Linked DNA regions of Homo sapiens. The protein of the gene in region 2 binds, or shares a complex with, the protein of the main gene of each other region. Each region holds a gene or a part of one and is shown on either strand. Other genes may lie near its edges. A codon is read from its position in the direction of its gene.

Region 1 (3,749 bases), on a different chromosome or scaffold from region 2:
AAGGACTTAAACAGTTCAAGCTAGGAAGGTCGATCTCCCTAAGCTGTAACTCAACTTCTAAGGCGTAGCTGTGCCTGATTACACCAGAGACTATACCTATTCCTTTCCTTCCATATAAAAATCCCACAGCGTATCTGTTCACAGAAATCTTCCCTTCTCCAGGCTAAAAATCTCCATGTTTTGCAAATGCTCAAACCAGTCCTGCTCCAAAAGCTACACTGATGCTCTATCTCTAGGATTAATCTGTAAAAGTAGAAACATGTGGATAGGAAAGTGAGTGATTACATAATTTCTTCTCCTTTCTTTCTAAGGCTAACCAGACTTCCAAAAATATCACAGAGAAAGGCTGACTCCAGCTCTACCTCCCTGATTCTGCACTGAGCCAATATATAGAAATCTCCCAATCAATAAATCATACTGAAATAAGAATACCCTTCTTCCAGCCGGGTGCAGTGGCTCACGCCTGTAATCCCAACACTTTGGGAGGCCAAGGCAGGCAGATCACGAGGTCAGCAGTTTGAGACCAGCCTGGCCAACATAGTGAAACCCTGTCTCTACTAAAAATACAAAAAAAAAAAAAAAAAAAAAATTAGCCGGGCATAGTGGCATGTGCCTGTAGTCCCAGCTACTCAGGAGGCTGAGGCAGTAGAATTGCCTGAATCCAGGAGGTGGAGGTTTCAGTGAGCTGAGATCACGCCACCGCACTCCAGCTTGGGCAAGTGAAACTTCATCTCCAGAAAAAAAAAAAAGGCCCTTCTTCCTAGTCTTTCAAACTCCAGATGACCTTAAAACCAAGATTAACACTGATGACTATAAACTAAAAGCAAAACAAAACAGAAAATAGCAAGTATTGTCAAGGAGTGGAGAAACTGAAACCCTTGTACTACATTGCTGGTGGGAATGTAAAATGGTGCAGCAGCAATGGAAAAGTATTGCAATTCCTCAAAAAATTAAACCCAGACTTAGCCATGTGATCCAGCAACTCCACTTCTGGGTCTATACCCAAAAGAAGTAAAAGTAGGGGCTCAAGTCGGTATCTGTACACCCATGTTCATAGCAGCATTATTCACAACAGCCAAATGGTAGAAACAACCCAAATATCTACTGACAGATAAATGGGTAAACAAAATGTGGTACATGCATACAGCGAATTATCATTCATCCTTAAAGAAAATTTTGGGCCAGGCGCAGTGGCTCACACCTGTAATCCCAGCACTTTGGATTACTTGAGGTCAGGAGTTCGAGACCAGCCTGGCCAAATAGTGAAACCCTATCCCTACTAAAACTACAAAAAAATTAGCCAGGCATGGTGGCATATGCCTGTAATCCCAGCTACTTGGGAGGCTGAGGCAGGAGAATTGCTTGAACCTGAGAGGTAGAGGTTGTAGTGAGCCGAGATCGTGCCACTGCACTCCAGCCTGGGTGACAGAGCAAGACTCCATCTCAAAAAAAAAAAGAAAAGAAAAGAAAAGAAAATTTTGGCCCATGGTACAACATGAGTAAACCTTGAAGACATTATGCTACATGCGATAAGCCAGTCACAAGGAGCTAATGTATATAATTCCTCTTATACGAAATACCCAGAATAGTCAAATTCATAGACAAAGTAGAATGGTGGTTGTCAGGGGTTACGAGGAGGGAAAAATGGGGAGTTATTGTTTATTGGGTACAGAGTTTCCGTTTCGGAAGACAAAAATTTCTGGAGATGAATAGTGGTGATGATTATGCAACAATGTAAATGTACTTAATACCACTGAACTGTACACTTAAAAATAGTTACAACAGTAAATTCTATGCTATGTGTATTTTACCACTACTTAAAAAAATTTTTTTTGAGAATGCCACATTCTGATTAGGGAAGAAGTCCCTTCTTCTGATCTGCCTTTTCCAAGTTGTCTCTCGCTAGTGCTTTTCTTACCTATAGTGCCAACCCCTCCGCTCCAGAAAAATACTGCTACCAGAAGATTATTTCTCTACATTTCCAGTTAATTATGTATGAGATGATTTTTTAAATTTCTAATCATGGAAGATCATTTTTTATTCATATCCTTTAAATAATATACTTTCAAGAAGAAATGCATCTAAAACCAAGAAAATTATACCTGTATTTCTTTTTCTGAAGCTGCCATATCATAGTTTCAGAAAGCTCAGTGGCATAGATTTCTTCAAAATGAGGGCTCATGATTTTTGTGACTTCTCCATCTCCAGCACCTAAATCAAGAAGTCTGTGGGTTTTCCAGTCTGGATTAATTTTAAGCAGTCTCTGAAACTGATCTGGTGAAAACACAAACATTGAGCCTCTTCCTAGCAACCTGAAAGAAAAAAAGGACAAAAATGGAAGTGTCTATGCAAATTAAGCACCCCTCACATACACACACAAAGTGAATATAGTGACTCAGCACCAACAACCATAATCACTTATTACATGGTTAAGATTTTTTTTTTTTTTAGACAAGGTCTCACTCTGTCACTCAGGCTGGAGTGCAGTGGCATGATCTCGGCTCACTGCAACCTTCGCCTCCTGGGTTCAAGCGATTCTCCTGTCCCAGCCTCCTGAGTAGCTGGGATTACAGGCATGCACCACCACACCCGGCTTATTTTTTGTATTTTTAGTGGAGACAGGGTTTCACCATGTCGGCCAGGTTGGTCTCGAACTCCTGACCTCAGGTGATCTACCCGCCTCGGCCTCCCAAAGTGCTGGGATTACAGGCATGGGCCACTGCGCCTGGCCTAATTTTTTTTTTCTTTTTTTTTTTGAGACAGAGTCTCGCTCTGCCGTCGCCCAGACTGGAGTGCAGTGGCACGATCTCTGCTCACTGCAAGCTCCGCCTCCCAGGTTCATGCCATTCTCCTGCCTCAGCCTCCTGAGTAGCTGGGACTACAGGCGCCCGCCACCACACCTGACTAATTTTTTGGATTTTTAGTAGAGAAGGGGTTTCACCATGTTAGCCAGGATGGTCTCGATCTCCTGCCCTCGTGATCCACCCGCCTCTGCCTCCAAAGTGCTGGGATTACAGGCATGAGCCACCGTGCCCAGCAAAGATATTATCTTTTATGTCATTTCTATGATTAGAAGACAAAGTTAATAAAATAAGAAAATGCCTCCAGATACCATTTGTCTTTGGAGTTGCAAATAATGCCCCAAAAAAGCATGGGAGGAGGGAAATAAAAGGTGGAAAGTGGAAAGGATGACAGGGGAAGGAAGAAGAAATAAGTAAGAGATGAATGTGAAGAACTTAAGTCAAAATAGGAAGGAAAAGTGGAAGGAGTAACAGAAAACATGTTTATCAGTTGAAAAAGATGACAAGCTAACACAGCCAGACCACAGTAGCAGAGAAACCAAATAGGAAAAAAAAGTGATTTCAAATATGGAACTAAACCATGGATCAGGAAAAAAGAGCTTTAGTATAACAGATTTTTAAGAGACACTAGAGAAAAGAGGGAAAAGAGTGGTCCTTGTGATGTCGGTTAATATGCATTAAAGTAGATTCGTACTTATGTCAGTTTATATGGTTACAACTGTCTGGGTCCTATTATTTCTAAAGGTCCTAGAAAACACTCAAAACCATAGTGATGCCTTTGAAAAAAGAGACTGAGGGGAGTTTAACTGGAGATTGAAGAGAACCCTCAGAAAAGCAACTATAGGTCCAGCCAAGTCTCATGGAAGCATCACTCTGGGAAATAAAGCGCAATCCCTATTTAGGACTTGTTTTCTAGCTCTGAAATTCTAGTTTATCTAGGACAGGGAT
Region 2 (3,749 bases):
AGCTGAGATTGTGCCACTGCACTCCAGCCTGGGCAACAGAGCAAGACTCCATCTCAAAAAAAAAAAAAAAAAAAAACACACACACACACACAAAAACAAAGAATATTAGAGTTCTTTTAGGGGAGGAAGCATGCACTGAAAGATCAGTCACCTCAGGAAAGGCAAGGGGTCTCATAAAGACCACAGGCCTGACAAGGTTAGAGGATTGGAAGGTCAATGGGCCATGGGGAAGTTCACACAAGGATCTGGGGTTACAAGGAAAACAAGAAAATGAAAGTGGCCAGGCAGTAAGTTGGTCACAACCTCTCACCTGGGGGCTGCTGACAGGCCCGGAGAATCCTGGGGGAGCTGGAGGGGGCAGACCAGGGGACCCCATGGAAGAACTGATGACTGGAAAGGGAGAGCCCAGTGGGGGTGGTGGCATCGGGGGTGGGGGTGGGGCCCCAGAGCCTCCAAGGGATGGAGCTGTTGAAGGGGGTAGGGGTGGCCCAGGAGGAGAAGGGGGAGGGACTCCCTGGGGAAGGGGATTTGGGGAGGAGCTGTCTGGGCTTCGGGAGTCTGAGGGAGGGGTATGTACAGGCACACAGACACACAAGAGACAGAAGAGACAAAAAAAGAAAATGAGTCTTCAAACATCCAACTAGAGACTTTAATTCTCTAATACCCCACCGTGCCGGACCCAGCCCACTCCACCCATCCCCAAGTTCAGAGACACCCTGCTGTCAAACAACAGTGTAACTCCGGCTGGTCCGATGGTAGTGGGTTATCAGAACTTATTAACATTTGTGTCACTAAAATTGGTATACAACCTCCCACTGCTATATTTGACTGGCTAAAAAAACCCAAAAACAGCGTAACTCCTCATTGTGGTGAGAGGAGGGAGTTGACAAGGAGAGGAGGATAGTTCAGGTGAGGAAAATTTTCCAACCAATCCATTTGAATGAATACCAGGTCATCCCAAAGCCACACCTGTCTCGTGGGTGGGGCAGCACGTGGGGTAGACCATCGAGCCCCTCTATTCCCAGCGTAAAGCCAGGTAGCCAGAGCGTGCAAGGGAAAGAGACAGGCAGGAGAGACCCCTCCTAAGACGCAGGATCTGCCTGTAAACGCCCAAAGTCCTGAGGTTTAAGAGGAATCGTGCCCTTCCCAGGCCCGCGACCTCCGGTGCCCAAGGCCTCAAGCGGTCACAGCTAGGAGGGCGGAAGCTCCCCTTCCCCGCCCCGCCCCGGGGGGGAGGGTGCTAAGGCCCTCGGGAGGGAGGGGACGCGTGTTTACAAACAAGGGGGCGGGAGCGCAAGGAAAAGAGCACCGGGGGAGGGTGTGGGGGAGGGGTCGCAGATAAAGCGGTCACTGGCTCGCCTGCCCTTCTGCTGGGGCACTCACCCCGCCCGCTGTCGCCCATCCCGTCCCGTCCAGCCTCCCCTGGCTCCGGCTCCGGGGTTTGTTGTTCTCCGCCTGCCACCGCCGCCGCCGCCGCCGCTGCGGGATCCAGCCAGGGCCGTCGCCGCCGCCACCGGGACGCGACCCCACAATGCATTTCTTTTCGCACCCCCACCGGCCCACACTGCCCTGCGGCATGCCGCTGAGGGAGGAAGGGCGGGCGAGCGGCCCAAGACATGATCCCTGGCTGAGAGTAGGGATACCGAAGAGGTCCCAGGGATTCCCAAGGATTGATCGGAGGATTAGCTGAGCACGAGGAAGCCCCTGAGAGAAAGACTCTGGCCTGGATTGGGTCGAATTAAGCCCGTCGCTCTGCTCAGTACCAAAATGACAGCGCCAATGTGGCAGCCATCTTTGTACAGACGGGAAGTCTCGGCGCGAGTTCCCGCCCCCTCGTCTAGTTGGAAACCGAGGAGGCGGTCTCCTCCGGCCTGTTAGCCCGCCTCGCCCACCCTCCCCTCAAATCACCTCCACACTCGCGCATGCGTGTCAGTGCAGGATGGATTCGTCGCTACCGGAGTGCCGCCATATTGGTAAAGGCATTAGGGCGAAGGTGGAACGGAACTTCCTGTTCTCGCGGGATCTAAAGGCGGGACTGCCACGTCCAAGCAAACCGGGAAAGGAGAGGATCCCGGAGCCGGTGAGAATTCTCTGTTTTTTCTCTACCATCCTTTCCAGGCCTTTTCCTCACCTAATGAGTCGTAGAGACGAGGGCCCAGAGAGTCTGTAAAGTGGCTGGTGAAAGATTAGTGTCCCAGGGCCCTACATCCGGGAGGTGGTTCGGGATAAAGAGAACTAGTCTTGGGAACAATGTAGGTGGGAACTTAAGGGAATGGGAGAGCGGCCCATAGAGGTGGACGGAGGGCGCGATTGGAGTAAAGCGGACCCTGTGTAGGTATAGAGTTGAGTCAAGTGGAGTCACTGCCTCTGTCCCTCTGGTCAGCGTGATGGCCAGAGGCCTGGGGGCCCCCCACTGGGTGGCCGTGGGACTGCTGACCTGGGCGACCTTGGGGCTTCTGGTGGCTGGACTCGGGGGTCATGACGACCTGCACGACGATCTGCAAGAGGACTTCCATGGCCACAGCCACAGGCACTCACATGAAGATTTCCACCATGGCCACAGCCATGCCCATGGCCATGGCCACACTCACGAGAGCATCTGGCATGGACATACCCACGATCACGACCATGGACATTCACATGAGGATTTACACCATGGCCATAGCCATGGCTACTCCCATGAGAGCCTCTACCACAGAGGACATGGACATGACCATGAGCATAGCCATGGAGGCTATGGGGAGTCTGGGGCTCCAGGCATCAAGCAGGACCTGGATGCTGTCACTCTCTGGGCTTATGTGAGTCTCCAGGGGATGGGAGAGAGAAGGGCTGGTTCTGGATTGTTGGGAAACTCCACAGTACTTGACCTTGACTCTCCCTCACCAGGCACTGGGGGCCACAGTGCTGATCTCAGCAGCTCCATTTTTTGTCCTCTTCCTTATCCCCGTGGAGTCGAACTCTCCCCGGCATCGCTCTCTACTTCAGATCTTGCTCAGTTTTGCTTCCGGTGGGCTCCTGGGAGATGCTTTCCTGCACCTCATTCCTCATGCTCTTGGTAAGTAACCTCTGACTTCTACCTCAAATCTAACCTATTTCGTTCTTTGGAGGAAAAGGGTTCTTTCTCCTTTATGATCCCTGACCTTTCGATATTCCCCCAAATACACACTCATTGTGTCAGATATTCCCTCATCTGGTTTTCCCCCCTTCTTCCAGAACCTCATTCTCACCACACTCTGGAGCAACCCGGACATGGACACTCCCACAGTGGTGAGGAAGAGACAGATGGGGATGGGAGTTGGGGTGCTGGGGAAGGTCCGTCTCTCCCTATTCCTCACCTCCCGCACTTGAGGAGGAGGAGTCTGGAATGCACATCTCCCTTAATGTCTCAATGCCTCCATTCCCAGGCCAGGGCCCCATTCTGTCTGTGGGACTGTGGGTTCTCAGTGGAATTGTTGCCTTTCTTGTCGTGGAGAAATTTGTGAGACATGTGAAAGGAGGACATGGTCACAGTCATGGACATGGACACGCTCACAGTCATACACGTGGAAGTCATGGACATGGAAGACAAGGTGAGCCCAGGAACAACTTTCCTGAAAGCTGACTTGCCTGCCTCAGAATCTCCTCATCTTATGGCCCTCAGGAGGGAGAGGACATGTTGGAAGATCTGTTCTCCACTCTGACCAACTCTTTTCTTCCCTCAGAGCGTTCTACCAAGGAGAAGCAGAGCTCAGAGGAAGAAGAAAAGGAAA

What was found.
Region 1: the proteins of SLC39A7 (region 2) and METTL9 are in contact, whole or in part, in a crystal structure (PDB 8GZE), measured with the Homo sapiens proteins. Residues at the interface, in NP_001070984.1 of Homo sapiens: Gly65, His66, Thr67, His68, Glu69; in NP_057109.3 of Homo sapiens: Arg114, Thr115, Asn118, Arg123 (codon at 2,302), Gly124 (codon at 2,299), Met126 (codon at 2,293), Met179 (codon at 2,134), Asn210, Asp213, Arg214, Val241, His245, Tyr247, Glu249, Trp255, Tyr295, Leu296, Cys297, Glu298, Asp300, Tyr306, Val307, Leu308.

Annotation. Positions count from the first base shown.
Region 1 is NC_000016.10:21,616,428-21,620,176, reverse strand, and holds part of METTL9 (protein-L-histidine N-pros-methyltransferase isoform 1 precursor), read right to left. Parts: intron 2,313-3,749; coding exon 2,103-2,312; intron 1-2,102. UniProt on the Homo sapiens protein: Protein-histidine N-methyltransferase that specifically catalyzes 1-methylhistidine (pros-methylhistidine) methylation of target proteins.
Region 2 is NC_000006.12:33,198,859-33,202,607, forward strand, and holds the start of SLC39A7 (zinc transporter SLC39A7 isoform 1 precursor), read left to right. Parts: upstream 1-2,008; 5' UTR 2,009-2,387; coding exon 2,388-2,798; intron 2,799-2,886; coding exon 2,887-3,055; intron 3,056-3,213; coding exon 3,214-3,267; intron 3,268-3,404; coding exon 3,405-3,569; intron 3,570-3,701; coding exon 3,702-3,749. Other genes in the region: RXRB (retinoic acid receptor RXR-beta), read right to left, coding at 311-558, 1,384-1,618. UniProt on the Homo sapiens protein: Transports Zn(2+) from the endoplasmic reticulum (ER)/Golgi apparatus to the cytosol, playing an essential role in the regulation of cytosolic zinc levels.